Linked DNA regions of Homo sapiens: all the other regions are reported to be linked to region 1. The links are microRNA targets in miRTarBase. Many come from high-throughput screens and were not tested one by one. Region 1 holds a microRNA gene; each other region holds the end of a gene's coding sequence.
Evidence for each region. Region 1 holds the annotated microRNA hsa-miR-448 (UUGCAUAUGUAGGAUGUCCCAU, at 1,363-1,384, opposite strand). A microRNA usually pairs through its seed, bases 2 to 8, with sites in the 3' UTR of a target mRNA and lowers its output. Matches are read on the target gene's strand: a 7mer-m8 pairs with bases 2 to 8, a 7mer-A1 pairs with bases 2 to 7 and ends in A, and an 8mer does both.

Region 1 (3,260 bases):
TTTGCATGGAACTTTGGGGTCCTTGTATATGAAACCATACGTTTTTTGAACTATTCACTAAGCCCCTAATTCCAATGGAGAGTCTGTGCTGCTGAGGAAAATAAAGAGATATAAATGCTCTAAATCCCAAACCCTAAATCAGCCTGTTTTTCAGCCTAAGATTGGCCCACTTACCATCCACTGTGAAGAATGCCAAAGCCAGGATGGTTGACTAGAAACTCATCCCAGATTCGAATGCATAGCAAATCAACATTTTTTAGAACCCCAAAGTCTTTGGAGATGGCCTGTTTAACTTGACCCTAATTTAAAGTCAGTGGAAAACTCGATAGCATCCCAGGATACAACTCAAGTTTGTGCTGTTGACATAATTGATTCTCTGCCAGTAGCATCTCCTACAGATTAGTCATTTTCATATAAAGATCCATAGTGAAATTTCAGCAGTCTAAAGTGAAAATGGAAAATTATGTATAACAGCCAATTATTTATAAAGCTAAATATATTCCATTTAAATGGCTTATTTCTATTCTGAGATTATATCCTTCCTGTACCAATCCAGAAGTAGAAGGGCCGCTAGGATTGGCTGGATTTTGCATTACTTTTAATCCTGCCCTATGTTTTTAAGAGCTGGGCCCTGCTCTCGATATTTCCTATCACCTTGCTTTTGACAGAATTCCCTGGATATGATTGGATACTGCAGCTGACAGAAATTATATCTCTGAAATATTTGTAGGGACATGCCGCTAACTTTCTCCCTTTGCAATCACACCTACTTCCTTGTAACTTGATTCTTGCCTCAAAGTGTAATAGACTGTTTCTGCTCAATTTAGAATTGTTAGTTCTTCTCTGGAATACTCCTCCCAAATATCCTTCTTCTGACTTTGAGACATATTTTTTAATTTACTATCTTACCTTGACCCTCAGACTTGAAATTCTAGGCTGCTTTTCAGGATATAATCTTTGTTTTTTTCTATAATTAAGAATTAGATTCTCTCTACCTCTAGGTATTTGGCTCTGGCTAGCCTAAATAAATATGCCCAACTATTGAATCTCCCTAATTCGGTGTAGCTCTGAGAGTAGGTGGCACAATTCTGGAGGCATTATCTGTGTGGCCAGTGTTGTTGCTAATATGGTTTAATGCAGATCTACTGGCCCTGAGCTTAAAGATCCACTCACATACCCACTGCCTCTTATGAGCCAAGGTCATAGCAGTCAGTACTCTACCCTCCTCTAAATACATTTGTCAGAATGCCTTTCTAGTGATGCAGCTCTAGCATCTGTGTTTCCATGACACGCAGATTTTATTGTTCTTCAGTGAAGCAGAGTGGTGTTTCTGGTGTCTGTCATGACGAAGTGGGCTGGGAGATGGGACATCCTACATATGCAACCAGCCAGCCCCCTCTTATATGAAATAGGGATTTCCTGGCAGCACTATGCAGGATGTTCAACCTCCCGGCCCATGCGAAGATGAACTGCTGCACCATGAAGTTCCAGTTTCTGCTGAAAGGCTTGACATTGATTGATGCTTCTCTGTGTAAATGCTGTCATGAAAGCCTCTTCTGGCCTGGTGGTCTTTTCCTGATGAACTGGTTGTGATTACAAGTAGCCTAAATGATCCAAAAGCTTGTCAACCAATAACTCATCTCTTACTTGAACTTAAACCCCTTATCTCAAAAATATCATTTCCCACCAATTAAATAAAAGGAGAAAAATCTCCTGACACTTATAGGTACCAAGATATTTTCTGGGTTACAAACACTGCCCAGCTCCACTTCCAATTTAGTCAACCTGTATTACCTGCTTCTAAATCATATAAACAGACTTCTTACATGACAGTAGAGGAATTCTATGGCTGGAAGACCCCAGATGGGCTGCACACACTTTTTACCAAAGCTATCCCAGATGTATCACAATTTAGTTGCCAAAAACACAGGCCTAGAAGCATCATGAGATCCTAGGCTCTGCGGCTCTGCAATGTGACCACCACATTACAAAATAAAGAAACTTAGCTAAGGACAAATTCAATCAGCCCTGTTCATTTAGCTTAGCAAATTCTGCATTATGTACTTGCTCATCTCAAGTCTCTCAGCACCAAGAACTTTCCTATCTGCAAAATTTTGTGAGCCTACAATTTCATCAGGACCTGACACCTGAGAGGTTCAATACAATCTACAATATCTTCAAACAAACAAACAAACAAACCCTAGATTTTCTCTTCTGAGATAGTCTCACAACCCATCTTTCCTGGAATTTTTTATGTAATTTCCAATTGAGCTACCTCCTTTCAAGCTGATCTCAAAACTTTACCTATGAGTGCATGGAAAAGACTTCCATTTCTCTGTTGATATTTTCTTCAGAGTTGAATGGAAGACAACTTTATTAAATGATTCTCTATTTCTTCTATTGTATGGATCTTGAGTGGTGGAAAAGGGATAAGGACAAAGAAGCAATCATGAATTCTTGCCTAAGCAAGAATATAATAATGAGGACTTCTGCTGATTTGTACTATGTGACTCTATCCTCTCAGTAGTGGGGAAAAAGAAATGAGTAGGTAAGAGAATAAGATATAATTGTGGCTTTAACTTTATGACTCTAGATTTTCTGGTTTGGATTTTGGCTTTACTTTATCACATTAAGCATACCTTTAATCTGGTATTTTATTTACAAGAGAACAAAAGTAAAATCTCTTTGACTATGTCATTAATGTAGAGTGATTTCTAAGTCAATAGAAAAAAATATAATTTTTTAAAAGTATATTTAATCTTGCCAGGCATGTTGGCTCACGCCTATAATCCCAGCACTTTAGGAGGCCAAAGTGGGTGGATCACCTGAGGTCAGGAGTTCGAGACCAGCCTGGCCAACATGGCGAAACCCCATCTCTACTAAAAATACAAAAATTATCTAGGGGTGATGTTGCGTGCCTGTAAGCCCAGCTACTTGGGAGGCTGAGGTAGGAGTAAGCCAAAATCGTGCCACTGCACTCCAGCCTCAGAGACAGAGTGAGACTCCATCTCAAAAAAAAAAAAAAAAAAGGATATTTAGTCTTTATAATTTGTTTAGTCTTGATGACACTAGCAGGATTAACATTTGCTAACTCTCCTAGGTGCTTCAGTGATAAACAACATGGCCATGCTATCATTCTAATGTTCACTAAAAACTAAAGTAAACTGTAAAATATATTTTTGAATACTGCTTTTTATAGTAATCTTCTTAATAACTAATGACATATTCAGAAATATTAAAATGCAGATTTCTTTAAAATT
Region 2 (3,260 bases), not on the chromosome of region 1:
CTGTTTACTGTGTTGCTAATTTCTTTTACTGTGGAGAAGCGCTTTAGTTTAATGAGGTCACATTTGTCAATTTTTGTTTTTGGTTGCAAATGCTTTTGGTGTCTTCATCATGATATCTTTGTCAGGCTGTATGTCCAAAGTGGCATTTCCTAGGTTATCTTCCAGGATTTTTATAGTTTTAGGACTTACATTTAAATCTTTAATTCATGTCGAGTTATTTTACATATATGGTGAAAGGTAGAGGTTCAGTTTCGTTCTCCTACACATGGCTAGCCAGTTATCCCAGCACCATTTATTGAATTAGGACTCTTTCCTCATTGCTTTTTTTGTTGATTTTGTTGAAAGTTAAAAGGTGTGAAGGTTTCTTTCTGAGCTGTCTATTCTGTTCCACTGATCTAAGTGTCTATTTTGGTACCAGTACCATTCTGTTTTGATCACTGTAGCCTTATATTATAGTTTGAAGTCAGGCTATGTGGTGTCTCTGGCTTTGTTCTTTTTGCTTATGATTGTTTTGGCTATTTGGGCTCTTTTTTAACTCCAAAGAACTTTTAGATTAGATTTGTCTAATTTTGTGGAAAATGACATTGGTATTGATAGAGATAGTGTTGCATCTATAAATTGCTTTTGGAAGTATGGCCATTTTAGCTATATTGATTCTCCAACCCATGAGCATGAAATATTTTTCCATGTATTTGTTTTGTCTCTGATTTTTTTCAGCCATGTTTTGTAGATTCTCTTTTTCCACACAAAGTCTGGCAGAATCACTCATTTATTACTCCATATCATGGAGGAAAAATGAAATAACATTAATTCTCTACTGAGTAATACAACAAAATTCTAAACTCAGTAGGTTTTTGGGAAATATAACTCTTTATTTAAATATCAGTACACAGCAATAAATTACTAAAGGAAACAATCATTAATATAAATTTTTTTCTTATTAAATAATTAAACAATTCTCTTTCAGGACATGGAAAGAATCCCTGGAGGTCTGAAGTCTAACATGATTGTTTTACTGACAATCATGTCAGTAATGAAAGAAAGAAATCATCATTCAAAGAAGTACTTGATTTTCCAAACAAAAAGAGAAGAAAGAAAATGTTGACATATCTTGTTTAGTCAGCCAGAACTTTAAGTGCAGGAATTCCATCAGGTAGCACCAAGAGAAAATTGCATAATATGTTAGGAATAATCACTGGTTAAATTGTTGGCAAAAGGAATCAAGGCAGTGAATGAGCTATTGGGTCCATGGTGTCATCATCATCTGCTGGAGGCTGCTGGACATACACCGTAGGTGGTGGGCAGCTGGCCAGACAGAAGGGCGAGGTTGATCAAGACCGTGCTCACAGGGGCTTTTTGGTATCATCTTTAACCTTCAGAAAGGACCCAAATGTTGGTTTAAGAGGCAGAGAACCCGGATCACTTTTCCACGGTAATCTTTCCCTAGTCACTCTATGTCTCAGAGCCCCCTGCACTAAGGGACCTATTTTTCCCTTGAGCCCCAACCCTGGCGACTGCAGCTTGGACCTACCTCTTTCCTCCTTTGTCACATCACAGAGTCAGCCCAGGCCCTGCACCTGACCAGGGGATGGAGTGGAGGGGCCCACAGGTCTGAAGCTGGTAGTGATGGGTCCGCTCCCTCACTCAAGGCCCTCTTTATCATCTGATGACAGGGTCTAAAACATGGCAAGGGGTGGGACAGACTTCCAAAGAGAGGGCTCTGTATTCCTGTGCCCTTGGCCTTTGGTGGGCCTGCAGGCAAACATCCTTCTTTCCCCTTCTTCTTGAGCATCACCTCACACTGGGAGCAGCACCCATAGTTCTGAAGGTGACTGTCCCTGTTCCACCTTTTCCATTCCTTATCCAGCCCAGTGGTGCCCGTGGAACCCCAGCAGCAGCTCAGATGCTCCTTCCTCTGAGTCCACTCTGCTCCTGGCAGGGCTATGACTGGGCTCAGGATCTGGGGTGTGCAGGAGTGTGATGGCAGGGGAGCTGCCTCAGGGCCCAGACTCAAACCCCACGGGTACATGGGACTGACTTTTTAAAAATCCTTCTCTTGAGCAGCCTCTACTCTTCACCTTCCACCTACTTTCTGTGGGAAGGCAGCCCTGCACTCCCTCCTTTTCAATTAGGTGTACCAAGGCTCTCCCAGCCCCCTCCTCCTGGGATTACACCCAGATCTCTCTTAGCCTCAGAGATGGAATCCCCCTTCCCCTGTCACACCTCATGTAAAGCTACCATGATGCACCTAACCCAATTAAGAGGACTGCCCATGTCTGAATTCCTGCTGCCTGCAGGCCACACACCCTTCCTGAATAGGAACCTGCTCTGAATCAGGCCTGAACTTGCTAAACCTTCTCAAGCTCAACAGACCCTGAGCCTTGGTATGGGCCCCTCCCTTTCCCTCTGGACTCTGAAGGTGAGAAACCATCAGAACTCAGGGCTGAGCTGCCCAGGTCATTGCCAACATTGCCAACAGGCAACACAAGGTCTCATTCACCTGTCTCATGTTAGGATGAGAAGGTCCCAGCCACGGGGAGGGGCGGGACTCCGGGAATTCTCTTTCCCCATCCTGCCTCCTCACCCACCTGCTCCTTGCTCCACTTCCAATTCTGCCCACAGTACCTGTCACTCTAAAGGACTCTCCTCAGATGCCAGGGAGGATGAAGCAGGGGAGGATGATGAGGAGGCAGCAAAGGATGAGGGTGGTGGCTGTGGCCCTGAGTTGGGTTGTGCCTGAGGACATGGCGAGTGGTGCTGAAATGGAAACACAAAAGTGACAACCCTTGTCCAGGCCCCAAATCTGAGGAGACACCTCCTCAGTTCCTGCCACCCTAGGTCATCCTGGAAGGCAAAAGTTTTGTCCCCTCCCCCCTGGTGTGGGGCAGCCAGTATGACAGGTCCTGGCTTAGGAAGGGAGACGGGGTGTGTCTTGTCCTCAGGGAGCTCACACAGCTGCTGAGGGAAGCAAGGTGACAACACACCCCACCCTCCTGCTGTGGGGGAAGAGGAGGTGATGCCCCAGAGTTGGGGAGGGGAGGATCTCTGGCTGGTGTTGGAAGTGGTTTTGATGGATTTCCAGAACCAGACCAGGGAAAGGAAAGGAAAAGTGATTCTCAAAAGAGGAAACACTAAGGAAAAAGTTCTGAAAACAGTGACACCTGCAGTTTCAAGGCTGGTGAGAAATCCACAGTGTGGGGAGCAGAAGCAAGTGCAGTGAGGAATAGGAGTCAGGAGGGAGAAGGAAGAGGAGGGTGGGA
Region 3 (3,216 bases), not on the chromosome of region 1:
TAAAGGTTTCTGGCCAAATGAAAATGACCCTACTATGATTTTATTTCTGTTGTTAATACTAAAAGAATCCCACTTGGATAATTTATCTTTTGTAGGGTAGTGAAACACTTGAAGTTTACTTAGAGTTTATTCAAAGCATAAAACTGAAATTCAAGATCAGAAAATCAAATTCTAAGGTAGATAGACTTTAGGCAACGCAGGCAACGAGGCAATTTCAGTTTATCAATTTGCTTTTACTTTTTTTTCGCTTAAAGCAATCAAATTTACAATTAGAAACTGATTTTCTTTCTCCTAATTCCGAATTTTTTTACAGCAAAAAGCCAAAGAAACCCCAAAGAAGGCAAAACAACCGACTGAAACCTTTAACCTTAGCCTATGATGGAGATGCCGACATGTAACATATAACTTTTCCTGGCAACAACCAGTTTCGGCTTTCTGACTTCATAGATGTCCAGAGGCCACAACAAATGTATCCAAACTGTGTGGATTAAAATATATTTTAATTTTTAAAAATGGCATCATAAAGACAAGAGTGAAAATCATACTGCCACTGGAGATATTTAAGACAGTACCACTTATATACAGACCATCAACCGTGAGAATTATAGGAGATTTAGCTGAATACATGCTGCATTCTGAAAGTTTTATGTCATCTTTTCTGAAATCTACCGACTGAAAAACCACTTTCATCTCTAAAAAATAATGGTGGAATTGGCCAGTTAGGATGCCTGATACAAGACCGTCTGCAGTGTTAATCCATAAAACTTCCTAGCATGAAGAGTTTCTACCAAGATCTCCACAATACTATGGTCAAATTAACATGTGTACTCAGTTGAATGACACACATTATGTCAGATTATGTACTTGCTAATAAGCAATTTTAACAATGCATAACAAATAAACTCTAAGCTAAGCAGAAAATCCACTGAATAAATTCAGCATCTTGGTGGTCGATGGTAGATTTTATTGACCTGCATTTCAGAGACAAAGCCTCTTTTTTAAGACTTCTTGTCTCTCTCCAAAGTAAGAATGCTGGACAAGTACTAGTGTCTTAGAAGAACGAGTCCTCAAGTTCAGTATTTTATAGTGGTAATTGTCTGGAAAACTAATTTACTTGTGTTAATACAATACGTTTCTACTTTCCCTGATTTTCAAACTGGTTGCCTGCATCTTTTTTGCTATATGGAAGGCACATTTTTGCACTATATTAGTGCAGCACGATAGGCGCTTAACCAGTATTGCCATAGAAACTGCCTCTTTTCATGTGGGATGAAGACATCTGTGCCAAGAGTGGCATGAAGACATTTGCAAGTTCTTGTATCCTGAAGAGAGTAAAGTTCAGTTTGGATGGCAGCAAGATGAAATCAGCTATTACACCTGCTGTACACACACTTCCTCATCACTGCAGCCATTGTGAAATTGACAACATGGCGGTAATTTAAGTGTTGAAGTCCCTAACCCCTTAACCCTCTAAAAGGTGGATTCCTCTAGTTGGTTTGTAATTGTTCTTTGAAGGCTGTTTATGACTAGATTTTTATATTTGTTATCTTTGTTAAGAAAAAAAAAGAAAAAGGAACTGGATGTCTTTTTAATTTTGAGCAGATGGAGAAAATAAATAATGTATCAATGACCTTTGTAACTAAAGGAAATCAAAATTATATGTTGATTTTTCTTTCTCTCTGATTTCCCAGTTTCAGATTGAATGTCTGTCTTGCAGGCAGTTATTTCAAAATCCATAGTCTTTTGCCTTTCTCACTGGCAAAATTTGAAGCAATCTCTCTCTTCAATGTATGATTTCAAAACTAAAATTTTAAAAGAGAAGAATAAATATCTTATCCAAGACTTCATTGCATATCTAGAGCAAGAGTGGCAAACTTTTTCTGTAAAGGACTATATAGAAAATATTTTCCACAAGGTCTATGTTGCAACTTCTCAACTTTGCCATTCTGCTAATGCAATCTTAGTAAATAAAAGAATGAACATAACTGTTTTCCTATATAACTTCCCTTACAAAAACAGCCAGTAGGCCACCTTTGCAGGTCATATTTTGCTGACCCCTGGTCTGGATGTTTTTTAATGCTAGCTCTCCATGGTGTCATCTTTCGTTTTCATTCATTTTTCAAAGGTGAGAATTTACAGTCATTACATTTCCCACTGTATCAGAAGTAGCTGTATTTTCTACAGATGTAGCCCTGGGAATGGCACAGTGGAACAATATTTAACTAACTCAGCAGACTTCTTGCAAATGAAAAGAAAACTCAAAAGGTGCCATTAAAAAGCAATACCATTTTCAGGCAACATTATTGCAACAACCTTTGTGAGAGAGGACACTAGCTTTTCAGGATATTTGAAAAATAATATAACTAACATGCTATTTTATCTTAAACAGCTGTGTTCCTGTAAAAGTGTTTTGGATTAGAAGGTATTTTTACCTTCATACTGGAGTATGAACTCCCCCTGCTGTTCATTAGAGTATTTGCAAAGATTACAAAAGACATCAGGTTAGGATGTCATTGTCCCCAAAATGAAAATATTTGTATGTATTTCAATAAGAACTAAATGCAGTAAGCGCTAATTCCTCATTCAATATTCACTATATTAGGAAATGTAAATCATTTCAAAGAGAACAGGTAGTCAGGAAGATGAAAATTTTACTTTAAAGCAAGGATTTAAACAAAGAAAACCATAAAAACAAAGTCCATTTTATCTGTTTTATTAAAGAGGAAGAAAAAATAATATTGTTACTTTAAAACTGTGATTGTCAATATATATAATCAGGGGTCTTCCAGATAATCCTAAAGTTGATCTCTTTGAATAAAATAAACTCCATTTGTCCAAAATAGTTAAGAAAGACTCTATTGTGGTTACTTGAAAAATTCAGCTAACCCTCTTATGAAATGTGTGCAACACCTATTAATTTTGAAATGTGGGATAGAATACCTACTAAAGCTATATTTAAGGTATTGTAAAATGTCATTAATTCAGAAAAGATTAGTATCATCCTACCTATAAGAATTAAATTAGCAAATCAAAATTATAGAATGTTATGAAAAATACATTTTATTCATAAATTAATTAGATTTTACAGCATATATGCATGCATATATATATATACACACACACACACACACACCCATATATATGAGAGAGAGGAAATTAGGTTCAACATGACCTAATATTAGAGAACATATTGGAAGGTCACTGTTTGTTAGGATA

Region 2: the mRNA of RAET1L is a reported target of hsa-miR-448. Seed matches in the 3' UTR shown: 7mer-A1 at 1,171-1,177.
Region 3: miRTarBase lists THSD7A as a target of hsa-miR-448. Seed matches in the 3' UTR shown: 7mer-m8 at 3,092-3,098.

Annotation. Positions count from the first base shown.
Region 1 is chrX:114,821,648-114,824,907 of GRCh38, reverse strand. MIR448 (microRNA 448) reads right to left here and starts at 1,454; the gene lies at 1,344-1,454. All of the region lies in intron 4 of HTR2C (5-hydroxytryptamine receptor 2C), which reads right to left.
Region 2 is chr6:150,017,483-150,020,742 of GRCh38, forward strand. It overlaps RAET1L (retinoic acid early transcript 1L), which reads right to left. Exons shown (of 5, transcript NM_130900.3): 4 at 2,626-2,757; 5 at 852-1,373. The coding sequence ends at 2,648. Among named protein-coding and RNA genes, the nearest start is that of RAET1L, 6.4 kb to the right of the region's middle.
Region 3 is chr7:11,372,976-11,376,191 of GRCh38, reverse strand. THSD7A (thrombospondin type 1 domain containing 7A) reads left to right here. Exons shown (of 28, transcript NM_015204.3): 28 at 314-3,216. The coding sequence ends at 398. Among named protein-coding and RNA genes, the nearest start is that of PHF14, 400 kb to the right of the region's middle.